4 separate regions of the Homo sapiens genome follow, and regions 1, 2 and 4 are each reported to be linked to region 3. The links are microRNA targets in miRTarBase. Many come from high-throughput screens and were not tested one by one. Region 3 holds a microRNA gene; each other region holds the end of a gene's coding sequence.

What was found. The annotated mature microRNA hsa-miR-1323 reads UCAAAACUGAGGGGCAUUUUCU and lies in region 3 at 1,691-1,712, opposite strand. An mRNA with a match to its seed (bases 2 to 7 or 8) in the 3' UTR can be bound and repressed. Matches are read on the target gene's strand: a 7mer-m8 pairs with bases 2 to 8, a 7mer-A1 pairs with bases 2 to 7 and ends in A, and an 8mer does both.
Region 1: miRTarBase lists TLX3 as a target of hsa-miR-1323. Seed matches in the 3' UTR shown: 7mer-m8 at 3,355-3,361.
Region 2: the mRNA of FCHSD2 is a reported target of hsa-miR-1323. Seed matches in the 3' UTR shown: 7mer-A1 at 3,296-3,302.
Region 4: the mRNA of HNRNPC is a reported target of hsa-miR-1323. Seed matches in the 3' UTR shown: 7mer-m8 at 972-978.

What each region holds. Positions count from the first base shown.
Region 1 is chr5:171,311,302-171,315,301 of GRCh38, reverse strand. TLX3 (T cell leukemia homeobox 3) reads right to left here. Exons shown (of 3, transcript NM_021025.4): 3 at 3,163-3,913. The coding sequence ends at 3,703. Among named protein-coding and RNA genes, the nearest start is that of TLX3, 4.1 kb to the right of the region's middle. RefSeq lists enhancers at 1,251-2,135, 3,906-4,000.
Region 2 is chr11:72,835,332-72,839,331 of GRCh38, forward strand. FCHSD2 (FCH and double SH3 domains 2) reads right to left here. Exons shown (of 20, transcript NM_014824.3): 20 at 1,414-3,543. The coding sequence ends at 3,460. It also overlaps a transcript of ATG16L2 not described here. Among named protein-coding and RNA genes, the nearest start is that of ATG16L2, 23 kb to the left of the region's middle.
Region 3 is chr19:53,669,341-53,673,689 of GRCh38, reverse strand. MIR1323 (microRNA 1323) reads right to left here and starts at 1,722; the gene lies at 1,650-1,722. All of the region lies in intron 2 of LOC107985342 (a long non-coding RNA gene), which reads right to left. RefSeq lists an enhancer at 3,646-4,349.
Region 4 is chr14:21,207,995-21,211,994 of GRCh38, reverse strand. It overlaps HNRNPC (heterogeneous nuclear ribonucleoprotein C), which reads left to right. Exons shown (of 9, transcript NM_004500.4): 7 at 72-185; 8 at 429-589; 9 at 689-2,848. The coding sequence ends at 772. Among named protein-coding and RNA genes, the nearest start is that of LINC00641, 3.1 kb to the right of the region's middle.

The DNA of each region.
Region 1 (4,000 bases), not on the chromosome of region 3:
CTTCTCGTCCTCCATCCAGTCCTCGGCCGGGCTGGGCGCCAACACTCGGCCGCCTGCCTCCGTAGCCTTGGCCTAAGGCTGGGAGACGATCGCAAAGGAGGCCCCCTCGTGGGGCCCCTCAGGCTACTCCAGATTCCTTTTTTCTTAAGCACAGCCTCAGGGGAGCCTGCCCCATCCAGATATTACCGTTGCCCCGATTCTGCCCATAGCTCGCGTGGCTGGGGGCAGTGGGAGGTGTGTCTCCTACTGAGGACGAGGAGTCGTCGGACTTCAGTCCCGCGCAGCCACGTTGGAAACGGCGACCTAGCGGCTTGGCAACCCAGGAGGAGGGGGTTAGGCGTTAAACGCCCTTGCGCCGCTCGGCAATCGCTCCCACCCGCTGGGGGCGCCCACATTGCTCTGGGTGGAGGTGGCCGAGAGATAGTCGCTACTTGGCACCACATGAGTGGGCTCAGCTCTGTAACAGGAAAAGACCCGTAGCCCGTCTCTGGCTGGGCAAGGCTGGGTGAGGGCAAAGCGCTGGAAGACGCCAAACGCCGCGAAGGCACTAGGTGCGGGAAAGCCAGGCGCCCCCCGAGGGCCGAAGCCAGACCGGCCCCCCACCCCCGGCCTGCCTGGACGCCTACCCCGGACGGGCCTCCGGGCCAGAGGCCTTCTGCGCAAAGCGAGGCGCCCAACAGAAAGAAAAAAAAACAACGTGCGTGTGTCTCCAAAGAGGCCCAAAGAATTGAGTGTCACCCTGGCAAAACAACAGAAGTAATTTTGAAAAACAAAAATACTAGGCCTTATAAGAATGATACGTTGGGCCGGGGGCGGGGGCTCACGCCTGTAATCCCAGCACTTTGGGAGGCCGAGGCGAGCGGATCACGAGGTCAAGAGATGGAGACCATCTTGGCCAACATGGTGAAACCCCGTCTCTACTAAAAATATAAAAAATTAGCCAGGCGTGGTGACTCGCGCCTGTAGTCCCAGGTACTCCGGAGGCTGAGGCAGGAGAATCGCTTGAACCCAGGAGGCGGAGGTTGCAGTGAGCCGAGATCGCGCCACTGCACTCTAGCCTGGCGACAAAGGGAGACTCCGTCTCAGAAAAAAAGAAAGAAAGAATGATACGTTGGATTTTGGGGCCTGTGGGGGAGGGTGGAGGGGCGAGGGATAAAAGACTACACATTGAGTAGAGTGTACACTGCTCGGGTGATGGACGCCCCAAAATCTCAGAAATCACCACTAAAGAACTTATTCATGTAACCAAACGCCACCTGACCATCTGTTCCCCAAAAGCGCGTTGAAATAAAAACAATTAAGAAAAAAAACCCCGCTAGGCCTTATTATGGAGCAACAGAATAAAACGGAACGGAAGGGAGCTGGACCGCGACACCCGTCTCTGAGGAAAGCGCTTCTCCGCCAGCAAAGTCAAGGGTCCCTCTAGTCCTCAGCCGAAGGGCCAACCTTTCCCAACCCGATGACGGCGTTCATCAGGCTTTTTATTGGAGAAAATAAAAGCATTTCAGGAAAACACTCACGGAAGAGACCCGAAGTTCTGAGTCACCCTAGTCCCTCCCTGGGTGTCTTTATGTCCTGAAAGGCGCAGATCCCAGGCTAGCTGGGCTTGGAGGTGGAGGTGACGGCGGGAGCGCTGGGGGTTCAAGGTGTTTCTCAGGCGCCCTCCCCTTCCTCCAGCCCTGCAGGTGAATACAGTCCCGCAGCCCGCATAGAACGAAGGCTCGGAGCACGGGAACCTGCAGGGTGGCGCACGGCTCCGGCTCCGAGGGAGGCAGTGGGATGAGGCGGGTGGGGGTGCTCGTGGAGTGGGAGGGGTGCTCTGGGACGCGGCCCCGAAAGTGTTTTGCCTTAGGAGCTACTGGGAGCTGGGCCTGGAAGAGGGAGAGAGGGAGTCAGGGAGAAAGGAAAGAAGAGAGAGAGAGAGAGAGAGAGAGAGAGAGAGAGAGAGAAAGACAGATACATAAAGGCAAAGAGATTCAAGAAACAAGAAAGGGAAGACAAAAGGACAAGAGGACCGTGGAGAGGAGGGAGACAAAGAAACCCAGAGACACACAGAGGCCAAGAGTCAGAACTGGGGAGAGAAGAAGGAGGAGACGACGGAACAAGAAAAGGCTGAGGGCAATGAAAAGCAATAGAGGACGAACTATACTGGGAAACATCATAAATCTGTAAAGAAAAGGAGAAAGATATAGTAAAACAGAGACCCAGAGTAACATACAGAGGAGAAAACAGGGAACATTGTAGAGAAAGAAACGGAGAGGCCAGAAAGTAAGTTTTCAGAAGACTGAAAGCGAGAATGATAAAAGAGGGGGAAAAATCAAAGAACTAGAGGAAGTGTTCACGGGCTTTGTGTGTTAGATGTGACTGGAAGGGGTCAGCCGCTCCAAACCTCGCAATTCTGAAACTTCCAGCTCTTGAGCCACGGTGGAGCTGGGTGGACCCCGGCCACGACGCTACCACACCAGCGCTTAGAGTTCTGAGTTCCGGGCGCCCCGCCCACTCCAGCCCAGTGACACCGCGGGGGCTGCGGTGACGTCACATGACGTCACGCTCCACCTGGGGTCCCACGCAAACCCGACAAGGAGAGGGCCCCTAGGGTTGTGCGCTGCATTTGCTCCCCAGGCGTTTGGAGACCGAGGATTTGCAGCGGCTCTGCGCGCAAAGCCTGCCCACAGCGCGCGCAGACTGGCCAGAGCCAGGTCCTCTCTGAGGCTCCGCGGGAAAAAGAGGGCGGAAAGCGAGTTGCGGGGTGAAGTGGGGCTCCGAGTTCCGACTTGAGCTCTAAGAAGTTCGAGGCCACCCTGCCTCCCACCCCCCAGGTGGATTTGACCTGGGGACGGCCTAGGCATCTGCCCAGGCCCAGCCTTTCACTCCCCAGCCCGCCCCGGCGCTGGCCCGCGGCCTTCGGGCCTGGAGCACCTTTCCCATGTCCAGTCCCCATCCCGTGCGCACCCAGGCTGCGGGTGGCCGGCACCAACTGACCTGCACCGCGCATCCTCCTCGGGGGCCCGGGCCGGGGTTGCAGCCGAGGCGAATGCAGACGAACGTTGCGGAAGTGGACGCGCCCTGCGCGCCGCCGCTCGGCTTCTACCGCCGCAGGGGTGGGGCGCAGGGCCGGGGGTCGCCGAGCATTATTGGAACGAAAACGAAATAAAAGCGGCGTTAAGTGAAATAGCTAACTTTTTTATTAAATAAAAAGACTTAAATAAAAGGAACGGAAAAGAAGAAGAGTGGACCCAGCCTAAACGCAGGGTGCCCCGGGCCCCTGGCACTTCCCCCAGCGGCCGGGTCGGCTGCCCTTCCTCCAGCGGCCCCCGCGGGGGAAGCAGGTGGCCGGTTTCTAAAGAAAAAAGCCAAAACTTTTTTATTATTTACACGTTTGGGCAAAAGTACAAAGTATAATACAGGCGCCCGGCCCGGGGGGTGCGGGCGGGGGGCGGAGAAACGTAAGGCGCTTTCTTGTCAGGCCCGGGCCTGGGGCGGGACGGGGCGCGGGGCGGGGGCTCGGATTGTGCGGCCGCGCGGAGCTCGGGCCCTACCCCCTTCCGCGGCCCGCCAGTCTGTGGCCGCGCCCTGGGGCCTACTCGGGCTAGGCGGCCCCTTCCCCTCTCGGCGCCGGTTCCCCCGCAGCCCGCCTGGGGGGTCCGGGGCGCCCGGCTGGGTGGGGGCGGCGATCCGTGGCGACGGTGCGCGCTGGTGGGCTCACACCAGGGAGGTGACAGCGGGAACCTTGGAACTATCCTCCTCCCAGGGCTGCAGATTCTGCAGAGCAAAGAGTGACGAGTTGTGCAGACAGAGCGGGTCAGGCTGGATGGAGTCGTTGAGGCTCTTTTGGAAGGCGTCGTGTTGCAGCTGCAGCATGAGCCGGCTCGCCTGCTGCCGCTCCGCCTCCCGCTCCTCCGCCGTCTGCCGCCTGCACCGGGGGAGGGAGAGGGACAGTACCGTCATGCACCCGGCACCGCGGGGCCGCCGGCGGGGCCCCGGCCCTCCCGGGAGCCGA
Region 2 (4,000 bases), not on the chromosome of region 3:
ACTATCAAGGACCCTAGTTCTGGAGGGAAGGACACTGAGAAGAGGCAGGAGAGGTGGTGGTGAGAAAAGGCAGGAGAGGTGGTGGTGAGGAGAGGTGGTGGTGAGGAGAGGTGGTGGTGAGAAGAGTTCGTGGTGACCAGCCTGTGGCACACTTTATATGGCCTTCCTGGAACCACAGTCTTATTCTCAGGTTCCAGATGAGGACACAGGCTCAGTCCCCATGGCTGTCAAGTGGCAGAGCCAGGATTTAACCCAGACCTCCTGGCTCCTAAGTCCATATGCGGTTGGTGGGAGTGTAAATGGATATAGTCCTTATAGGAAGCCAATTTGGCAAAATCTAACAAAATTAAATACATACCTTTTTGACCCTCAAATTCCACACTTAGGAATCTACCCAACATTTATACTGGAACATATTTTTTTTTTTTTTTTTTGAGACAGAGTTTCACTCTTGTTCCCCAGACTGGAGTGTAATGGCACAATCTCAGCTCACCGCAACCTCTGCCTCGCAGGTTCAAGCGATTCTCCTGCCTCAGCCTCCAGAGTAACTGGGATTACAGGCATGAGCTACCATGCCCAGCCAATTTTGTATTTTCGGTAGAGACTGGGTTTCTCCATGTTGGTCAGGCTGGTCTCAAACTCCTGACCTCAAGTGATCTGCCCGCCTCGGCCTCCCAAAGTGCTGGGATTACAGGCATGAGCCACTGCGCCCGGCTGAACACATTTTTATGTAAACAAGCAGTGTGTACACTTAAGAGTCTTATGCACAGGATAATGTCTGGAAAAATGCTTACTGCATGTCCCCAGCTCCAGGAAAGAGGAGAGCTTGTGGGGCCCTTCCCCAAACAGGCTGTGTCCTGGTCCTCAGTGTGGCTGGCTGGAAGCCAGGGGGACTCAGCCTTTGACTAAGAATGCTCCATCCACCCCTGGGACCGAGAAAATCTCCTTTCACACAATTCATTACTCCTTAGGGTGGAGGTTTAGGAAAGGGGAGAGGCATCCAGAATGCCCGCTTCCTGGAAGCCAGTGGTCACATCCGGCAAGGGGACTTCAGTGACCTTCCTCTCACCCCTCCAGCAGCAGAATCAGAGCTCCCTCCTCAGCTGCCTCTATGCTATCTGCCCCTCCCTTCTAGCACATGTCCCACAGTACTGTCCTCACGTATTTCTTTTTTTTCCCATGGGAAAAGCAAAGACCGTAACCTATTTACTGCCATCTCTAGTACCCAGGATATTACACCTAGCACATGGGGGCTTCAGGGACTGTCTGTCTCATAGATGGATTAATTTACTTTCTCCTCTCTCTGTCTGTTAGCTGGTTTAAAGGAGGGCCCAGGAATGTTTTTATAAGAAGCATGGGCCTTTTGGAAAGGTCTGTTTACCCAAACCTTTCTATATTAAAACTTAGAAAACATAATTCCATTTTTTTTATTATTCAACATTTTATACATAATAAATACAAACTTTTTACAGCCACTGTAAAGAAAGCACATCTGCACAGAGGCTCCCTCCGAGCCCTGACCTGTGCACTGTGGTGCTGGATTCCATATCCTGGATGGAGGGGTTATTTTTTAAAAAGGAGGCATGTTTTCACAACTTTGTTTTTTAAAATAAAATTAGCAGCTCTTCCAAAAAATATTTTAAAATACAACAAAAGATTTCAAATAACCCTTTGAGGTTGTGGAAAACCCAAATTCAAGGACAATTTGGCTAGCTAAAGACAGAATACAAGACTGGGTGGCAAGAACTGCTCTATTTAATAAGCATTTGAAGATTTTTAATATGTTAGCAAACTTTAAAATCTTAAAAAAACCACCCTTTTAATTTCTTTTTTAAACTTAAGAATAAGTTTGATAAACACAAAAGACCTCAAATAGATCAACAGGTTAAGAAGTGTAAAAAACAACAACGAAAAAAAACCCCAAATCATGGAGAAGATTCATTAATGGGTATTGTCACTGAAGTGATCAAAGAACTAAAAATTTCTTCAGTTATCACCTTACTTTTGGTCAAAAATCCCATGGGGACATTTGGCGAGCATTTCAAGTTTTTTAAGATTCTTAGGAGGGATGGAGTTTTCAAAGCATAATACAACTTGTAGATTAAATTCTGCAAATTTGATTTCTTAACCAAGGAAAAAAAAAAAAAACAAACCACAACCGGCGAACATCCCTTAGTCCCTAGGTATTGTGCTCCCTACCTTCTACAGGAGCGGACAGCAGACAGTCAGCACCTGACGTGGGGGCACCTGCTGCTGCAGGCTTGCTGGCCTGCAGAGAAGGCCACTCCTGGCTTTCCCTGTGACACACAGAAGACACTTGTCTTTTCCTGGTCAATCTGTACTTGTGCAGGGTGCGCAATCCTTCAGTCCTTTCTCATAGAAAGCTGGTTTCCTCCACGAGCCACCAGGTTCTTCCTTCCACGGAAATGTCAGGGTAGTGGGACCTGGAAGCTGCATTTTCCACCATAGCAGTTGGTCTGGACCAGCCACAGCCTGGCTGTCTGGGCCGGTCTGCTGGCTTGGGAATAAAATAATGCCGGGGCGTCCCCAGTAGAGAAGCTCAACAATGCAGGTATGTGTCCTCAACTTATCTAGACATTTGGATTCTAAGGATACTGGTAAGAAGAGTATATGCTGTAAAAATTAAGATGAAAAATACCCAAATACAAAAGAACATTATATTGGCTAATTTCAGATCCGGAAGTTCCATTTCTGCTTTAGCCACAGCCTCCTTTCTATTAGTCTATGTGATGAACAAGATGTGGCTACTAGTTCAGCCCCTCCATATTAGCTCTGCTAATTCTAAATGAATGGCACAGATATTAATACGAAGGACACTGTTATTTTAAGTCTGTTAGTTGTGGAAGAGATGTGCGTTAATGCAATTGGTGCTAAATTCAGGGCAGTCCAATTTTTCCCAATAAGGTTTCACTTTCTCAGTCTGGGGACTAACCTTGGGGAGGAGCCAGCCTCTCCTGAAATCCCTCCTTCTGTTTCCTTATGTAGCCAACATGATCTGATTAATTCTCAATCAGATGAGCAAAAGCCACTTGAAGAAAGATGAGAATCTTTGCCACATCCTTGTGGTCACAGTAATATACTGTACGAGTGCACATGATCAGTAATTTAGGGACTGTGCCCTGGAATGAGGCCTGTTCTTGAGTCTCATATAAAAACAGACCACTGTTAGGCATGAGGGCTGCCCCCCTCTTTGCTCCTAGGGTCCGCTAGGATTTGTGCTATGGTAGGAGAAATGACATAGAAAATGACAACAAAAAAAAAAGGCACGAAATATTCAAAACGTGGGAGGAGTCTACCAGGCCACCCAGTCACACATAATCCTCCTTGTTTTTTGCTCTGTTCAAGAGTCATCATCATGCAAAGGTGCCTAAAAAACAAGACTGGCCAAACTCCAAGCCTGGCCTTGATTGTAGCAGTAATGGATGGGCAAGCCCATCATCACACCAGTGTGATTTCCACATCTTCAATCTTCTCTGCTGGCCTTCGGTGATTCTGTGTAGGTGGAGGGGGAGCTGCCCGGACCTGAGCAGGAAACAATTACGTAGTTTGTCAGTCAGTTCCTGACTCAGTATCTGAAGCATCCCCAAAACCTAATCACTCATCTGTCCAAGGACATGGGCACCCTAGGGGTCTCAGAAATGTTGTGAGCACGTGCTTTCAACCTAGTCTTCACTATTTCCTACACTGAGAAGCAGTTGTTCTCAATGAAATATCAAGCCCACAAATCAGCTTCTTGCCTAGGCTAAAAACCTCATGGGCACAAGTCCTATGACTAAGATCCTAGCACATCCTCCAAAGCAAAGGTCTGGCTGGAAGCAAGGGAGAGCAATGCTTAGAGAAATGAAACATTTCAGTGTGTCTTGGGTAGAGAGTTACAAAAGAGAAGGCTAGAAAGGTAGGCTAGGGTTAAGTTGTGAAGGGCCTTGTTAAACCATGTTTAAACATCTGCTTTAAGAAGAAAAAAATAAATCTGTGCTTT
Region 3 (4,349 bases):
GGCAGAGGTCGCAGTGAGGCAAGATCACACTACTGCACTACAGCATGGGTGACAGAGAGAGACTCCATCTCAAAAAAAAAAAACTCTCAAATGGTCAGGCAGGATGGCTCAAGCCTGTAGTCCCAGCACTTTGGAAGGTGGAGGCAGGAGGATTGCTTGAGTCCAGGAGTTTGAGACCAACCTGGGCAACATAGTGAGACCCTGTCTAAATACATAGAGAGATAGGCAGGAAACATGGTGAAACTCCATTTCTACTAAAAATACAAAAAATTGGCCAGGGGCAGTGACTCAAGCCTGTAATCCCAGCACTTTGGGAGGCCGAGGCAGGCAGATCACGAGATCAGGAGACCGAGACCACCCTGGCTAACACAGTGAAACCCCGTCTCTACTAAAAATACAAAAAAATTAGCTGGGCGTGGTGGCGGGCACCTGTAGTCCCAGCTAGTCGGGAGGCTGAGGCAGGAGAATGGCATGAATCAAGGAGGCGGAGCTTGCAGTGATCCGAGATCACACCACTGCACTCCAGCCTGGGCAACAGAGCAAGACTCCATCTCAAAAAATAAAAAAAATAAAAAAATAAAAAAAAATTAGCCGGGCATGGTGGTGCACACCTGTAATCCCAGCTACTTGGGAGGCTGAGGCAGGAGAATCACTTGAACCCAGGAGGCAGAGGTTGCAGTGAGCCGAGATTGTGCCACTGCACTCCAGTTTAGGCAACAAGAGCGAAACCCTGTCTCAAAAAAAAAAAAAGAAAGAAAAAAAGAAAATGCTTAGACATTTACATTGAGACTAAGAAAAATGGCTCCCCAGATCCCAACCCAGGTCTATGGCACCAAACAAAATCTGTGGGTGGGCCCCAACAAGCTGCTTCAGCCAAGCTTCTGGGTTTTTGTCATAAATTTAAGAACCTCTGGGAATGGGGGCACGTGCATCTGTAATACCAGCTACTTGGAGGCTGAGGCAGGATGATCACTTGAGCCCAGGAGGTTGAGACTGCAGTGAGCTATAGTCGCACCATTGTACTCAAGGCTGGAAGACAGAACCCCTGGTCCATGATATCCTGGGTAGAAACCAGGACATCTACTAAATAGATGGACTGGTATGGGGGGCAGAAGGGAAAGGAAACCTTCACAGGAAGCACTTTTTTTTTTTTTTGAGTCTCGCTCTGTCACCCAGGTTGCAGTACAGTGCCATTATCTTGGCTCACTGCAACCTCTGCCTCCTGGGTTCAAGCGATGCTCCTGTCTGCACCTCCCAAGTAGCTGGGATTACAGGCACATGCCACCATGTCCAGCTAATTTTTGTATTTTTAGTAGAGACAGGGTTTCAAGTGCCTCGCCTGCCTCCCAAAGTGCTGGGACTACAGGCGCGAGCCACCCCACCCGCCTTAGGAAGCACATACTAAGGAGCCAAGTTAACTGCAATTCCTGGGGTCTCAGAACAATGTTGCATAACAGACATTTTTGCTTTGCATTAGAGGGATTTTTGCCTAGGAGAGCGCTTAGAAAATGGAATGCATTCAACGTGAGAAAGCTGATTGCAGTGGAGAGAAAAAGAAACAATAGAAAAGCAAAGGCCAGTCCACTGGGTGCATCCATGTGGTGCAATGCGATGGGGGACTGGGGATGGGTTATGATGAGGATTCACAATTGACATCCCCAAAACTGGGTGCACTTTCCTTTCAAACCACAGAAAATGCCCCTCAGTTTTGAGGACCTCAGTCTGAATGTCATGTCTGACTTCAAACTCTTCCTACGTGGTTAACTCACACTAGGGTTCGCTGTCCTCACACTGCAGATGGAGGACGTTCACACAGCACTCATGCAGAAGCTCCCAGCCAGATCTTGAAAAAAAATAACCTCAAAGAATCCTCAGGCTGCCCAGGGAGTTGCTAGGAAAAGGCAGACACACCAGCATTTACACAAATTCAGTTACATCACTAGTGGTAGGTTTCACATAAAAACCTTTGATTTATGAGAAGGCTATGCACATGTTACACATCCAGTCAGAACCAATCATGCACTCTAATCATACACTTTAATTTCAAATTTTTTTTTTTTTTTGAGACAGAGTTTCACTCTTGTTGCCCAGGCTGGAGTGCAGCGGTGCGATCTCAGCTCACTGCAACCTCTGCACCCCATGTTCAAGCCATTCTCCTCGTCTACTCAGTCTCCTGAGTAGCTGGGACTTCAGGGGCCCGCCACTATGCCAGGCTAATTTTTGTATTTTTAGTGGAGATGGGGTTTCACCATATTGGCCAGGCTGCTCTCGAACTCCTGACCTTGTGATCCGCCCGCCTCAGCCTCCCAAAGTGCTAGAATTACAGGCAGGAGCCACGGCACCCGGCCGTTTTTGGTTTTAAATTTCTCAGCATTACCTGTGAAAGAATCCAAGTGTACATTTCCACAGTCCTGTCTATGAACACAGAAGAAGGAGTGATTGGCAGCAAACTGATGCTTCAATGCCATGATAGGAGCAAGTGGGCTTCAAAACTATCCTAATACCTGTCCTTTTTTTTTTTGAGACAGAGTCTCGCTCTGTCGCCCAGGGTGAAGTGCAGTGGCACGATCTCGGCTCACTACAAGCTCCGCCTCCTGGGTTCATGCCATTCTCCTGCCTCAGCCTCCCCAGCAGCTGGGACTACAGGCGCCTGCCACCACGCCCGGCTAATTTTTTTGTATTTTTTTAGTAGAGACGGGGTTTCACCGTGTTAGCCAGGATGATCCACCCGCCTCAGCCTCCCAAAGTGCTGGGATTACAGGCGTGAGCCACCACGCCCGACCAATATCTGTCTTCTTGATGCAAATCCAAGTTTAGCATCCTCATTTGGGCATTCATTTGTTAATCTATTCTGCAGTCTTCTGATCTACCTCTTATGCTACTCTTCTTTGCAATTTTACTGTAAGGCAAGAAATTCCTAGTCTTCAGTAACCTGGAGTTAAGATACCAGTCCCCATCAGTTACAATCAAGGACTCACCTCAGCACTGAAAATGCCTGGGTCCCACACGTCACAGGCAATGTGCCAGTATGTTCTTATCAGACTCCAGAAAGCACTCCCAGATTGCATGTCACCAAGGAGACAGTGATCACAAGCCCCAGGGAAAACCTGCAAGGTAGCATAGAACCCATGTCCCTCCACAGGCAGTCCTCCTACAGCTCAACAGAAGACAGTGTTGGAATGTGTTGAATTCTGACATTCTGTTCTACCACCTCACGGGGACAGCGCCTGTAAAAGCCTTTGGGAGAGTGTGGCTGGGAAATGGGCACATTACTTCTCAGTGCACATCCAGCAAGTGATCCTCCATGTGTCAAAAAATCTTATGCTTGCTGGGCGCGGTGGCTCACACCTGTAATCCCAGCACTTTGGGAGACTGAGGTGGGAGGATCAACTGAGGTCAGGAGTTTAAGACCAGCCTGGCCAGCATGGTGGCACCCCATCTCCACTAAAAACACAAAACATAAGCCAGGCACGGCTGTAATCTCAGCTACTTGGGCGGCTGATGCAGGAGAATTGCTTGAACCCGGGAGGCAGAGGTTGCAGTGAGCTGAGATCACTGCACTGCACTCCAGGCTGGGCAATAGAGTGGGATCCTGTCTCAAAAAAAAAAAAAGAAAAATAAGGCCGGGCGCGGTGGCTCACGCCTGTAATCCCAGCACTTTGGGAATCCGAGGCGGGCAGATCACAAGGTCGGGAGTTTGAGACCAGCCTGGCCAACATAGTGAAACTCTGTCTCTACTAAAAATGCAGAAAACAGGCTGGGTGCGGTGGCTCACGCCTGTAATCCTAGCACTTTGTGAGGCCGAGACGGGCGGATCACCTGAGGTTGGGAGTTGGAGACCAGTCTGACCAACATGGAGAAACCCCGTCTCTACTAAAAATACAAAATTAGCTGGGCGTGGTGGCGCATGCCAGTAATCCCAGCTACTCCGGAGGCTGAGGCAGGAGAATGGCTTGAACCCGGGAGGCAGAGGTTGCTGTGAGCCGAGATCGTGCCATTGCACTCTAGCCTGGGCAACAAGAGTGAAACTCCATCTCAGAAAATAAAAAGAAAAATAGTGATCTCAGGTGATCCATCCACCTCAGCCTCCCAAAGTGCTGGGATTACAGGCGTGAGCCACCGCGCCCGGCCTCAGCTTGCTTCTTTCATTGTGTTGTGACTTGCCTCGAAATTCTTTCCAGCAAGAGATCCAAGAACCCGCTTTTGGGGTCTGGATTGGTTGCCTCTTCTCTGGCAATGGTGTGACCCAGGCTATCCCTGAATCCAAGCATTATAGCTGCTACGGAACCCAGCCTCACAACCCAGAGACCCTGGTCATTTCCTTAAAGCTGGGCTGAAGTCCAGTTTAT
Region 4 (4,000 bases), not on the chromosome of region 3:
GTGGCAGTGTATTTGCTAACTCATATCTTCGGTACATTTGATTTTAATCTAGTATTTTGTTTATATTAAAGTGAAAGGAGATGACCTTCAGGCCATTAAGAAGGAGCTGACCCAGATAAAACAAAAAGTGGATTCTCTCCTGGAAAACCTGGAAAAAATTGAAAAGGAACAGAGCAAACAAGCAGGTAAATGGGTTTTCTGCTTGCCCTTGGTATACAGTTGGGTTAGTTACATAAGGCACTTGAAAGTACATGTTGGAATAGTGGAATATAAAGCAATGTAATATGAAACTTGGGGAGTGTGAATTGGGAAGGGTATTTGTGTGGGAGGATTTAGATTTGTGCTGCAGTTCTGTGATCCTTAGTGGGGATTGTCTACGTCCTGTGGACATTACTGCCCCTAGACAGACTTGTCCTTCTCATCCGCAGTAGAGATGAAGAATGATAAGTCAGAAGAGGAGCAGAGCAGCAGCTCCGTGAAGAAAGATGAGACTAATGTGAAGATGGAGTCTGAGGGGGGTGCAGATGACTCTGCTGAGGAGGGGGACCTACTGGATGATGATGATAATGAAGATCGGGGGGATGACCAGGTGAAAACCACGGGAAAGGAAAGAAAAAGGTGGTGGAGGGGGGCTCAGGGACACATGGAGTGCCTCTAACTCCATCCTGTTTGTGTCTGTTTCTCACAGCTGGAGTTGATCAAGGATGATGAAAAAGAGGCTGAGGAAGGAGAGGATGACAGAGACAGCGCCAATGGCGAGGATGACTCTTAAGCACATAGTGGGGTTTAGAAATCTTATCCCATTATTTCTTTACCTAGGCGCTTGTCTAAGATCAAATTTTTCACCAGATCCTCTCCCCTAGTATCTTCAGCACATGCTCACTGTTCTCCCCATCCTTGTCCTTCCCATGTTCATTAATTCATATTGCCCCGCGCCTAGTCCCATTTTCACTTCCTTTGACGCTCCTAGTAGTTTTGTTAAGTCTTACCCTGTAATTTTTGCTTTTAATTTTGATACCTCTTTATGACTTAACAATAAAAAGGATGTATGGTTTTTATCAACTGTCTCCAAAATAATCTCTTGTTATGCAGGGAGTACAGTTCTTTTCATTCATACATAAGTTCAGTAGTTGCTTCCCTAACTGCAAAGGCAATCTCATTTAGTTGAGTAGCTCTTGAAAGCAGCTTTGAGTTAGAAGTATGTGTGTTACACCCTCACATTAGTGTGCTGTGTGGGGCAGTTCAACACAAATGTAACAATGTATTTTTGTGAATGAGAGTTGGCATGTCAAATGCATCCTCTAGAAAAATAATTAGTGTTATAGTCTTAAGATTTGTTTTCTAAAGTTGATACTGTGGGTTATTTTTGTGAACAGCCTGATGTTTGGGACCTTTTTTCCTCAAAATAAACAAGTCCTTATTAAACCAGGAATTTGGAGAAAAAAAAAACCCTGGTTTTTTATTTTTGTATTTTATTATTGTTTACTTCAAACTTTGTTTTACAGCGTCCTCCACAAAACCTCTAGAATGCACTAGATATATTTTTCTTGGAGTCATAATCATGATGCATACCAACACAACACTACTCAAATTATATTTCATTGAGATGCATGTTGCATTGAGGAGTCAACTTGACATAGAGTGGAGACTTTTTCAAAATGGCTTTTACATCCTAATGAAAGTTTGGGAAGTATATCCTCTCTGCCTTTTCATCAGTGCTTTGTGGTCCAGCTGGCACCCTTTCTGAGGTTTGTGTTTTGTGCTAAATGGTTTTGTCCTTAAATAGGAGAGGCTCAAAAACATCAAGATTTCAGGAAAATGGCGACAGCTGCATAATGGAACCCCCCTGCTTCTATTTTGTTCTTTTAATTACTATTTATAGCCCCAGTTACCTTCTGAATTCTGAAGTGTATATACCTCCATGTTCCTGAAAACAAGAAAACTCTTACTTCCTGATATTCCATAGACTGCCTTCCCAGGTGATTGAGAACATAGAGAATGTTACACATTTATTTTACTCTAAATGATCTTTTACCCCTGTTAGCTAATCTTTGTGTTTTCCTCAACTTTATTAATTACAGTGATTGCATTTTTAGCATCCAGTTGTAAGATGAATATATTAAACAGCTACCAGTGTTGGTGATACCTCATCCTTGAAAGGCTTAGTTCATTTGTGTTTTATACTTCAGTTTTTCCAGCATAGCAGAAAATGCCGCTTATAATTTTTGTGCACACAAACCTTGGATTCCCCTGTAAAGTTGCTATTGTTTCATAGCATGCGGCACTGGCCTTTTTTCATCCTACTCATTACAGGCAAAACTCATGTCTTATTTATGAGGATTTTATAGATCATTTTCTGTAACAGGTGACAAAAGCAGAAAAGAATGAAGAGGCTGAAGTATGAACTACCCTTGGAGCCCATATACATGATATAGGCAATTTCTTTTGTATGTTAATTCAGTCAAAAATACTACCCACTTGATGTTTTCTAATCTGATGTGAGCTCATGTTACACAGACTTTTAGTAAGTAACCCGTGACTAGAAAATAAACTGGATGCTTAGGAGAGAGTGTCAGATGTATAAGATGCTAATAAAACCTGTTTAATATTATTGTTAGCTGTAAGTTTTTGGGAAATACTGAACAAATTAGTCCACAATCAAGTGTCTACTTTTCCCTTCACTGTAGGGCCTCTCCCTGCACAGAGCAGTCTGTTTAGCTGTGAACACCACAATCTGCAGATGTTCAAGTCCCTTACATAAAATGGCATAGTATTTATATGTAACCTATGCATATTCTCCTGTATATTTTAAATCATCTCTACATTAAAATACCTGATAAAATGTAAATGGTATGTAAATAGTTGTAACTTTTTTTATTTATATTTTTGTTAACTTTTTTTAGTTTTTTTTCTTTGCTAGTATTTTCGATCTGTAGTTGGCTGAATCTGCATGTGCAGAACCCATGAACATGGGGGGCCAACTATACATTTTATTCTAGGAAAGCAGGTATTGAATGAAGCTGTGGAGAGCGCTTTTTAATATTAGGTTGGTGCAAAAGTAATTGTGGCTTTTGCCATTACTTTTAATTAGCTGCAGTTACTTTTGCAAATAGCCGTAGAGCATGATCACAGATTGAAAATCTATACACACATATGGTAGGGTTGTTGGAATACTGACATGTCTAGTTTGTGTTGATGGGGAAGTCATTTCACGCTCTTGGTTTTAGGCTACGCTACTGTGGCTTAAATTTCCTCGTGTTTAAGACAACAGTACTCTAGGTTTTCTATAATCACAGGTGTACTCATTGAGTACTTTGACATTTAGGTTCCTAGGCCAAAACTGTAGCAAAGTAAAGAGACCAGGATTGAAATACCACATGGTAAAAGGCTTTTAAAAATCTGATCTAATGCAGATAAGTACAGGCTTTTTGGGAAAGGGGCTAGTGTTTTTAAAGGCCATTTATCAGATGATATGCTTATAGTCAGTGTGACATTACTTAACCCTGGGCCCTGCAAAGTAAGAATTGAGTTGGCTCAATAGAAATTCAGAATAGTAGGCATGGCAGTGCAGGTAAAGGGGTTAGATCTGACGGTAATAATTGAGTGATTTCTGATTTAATAATTGAGGGATTTCAGATTGATAGTCTGATTACACTGCAGTAGTGGAAGTAAGATTTAAAAGTAAAAACATTTTAATTTGGGATAAAATTCAGAACACAAGTTTCTCAATATGCCATGAAATCTAAGAAAATGTCCTGCAATCATTCAAGAATGCAGTTTTCATTTCAGGGTTAGAAAGCAGGAGAGGAGGTAGATAAAAAATCCTTAGTAACATTTTTTTCTGGTGCTGCATAACGTATAATTGGGAAACTTCTTCTAGGGTAATTAATAAATTGCTGCTGTCTCAGTGGGATGAGCTAACTGGAAGCTGTCAGGTGGGAATGGATGCTAAATTTGGGATTCTCAAAAGGAGGGCTCCTCTTGTATTTCACTTCTGATG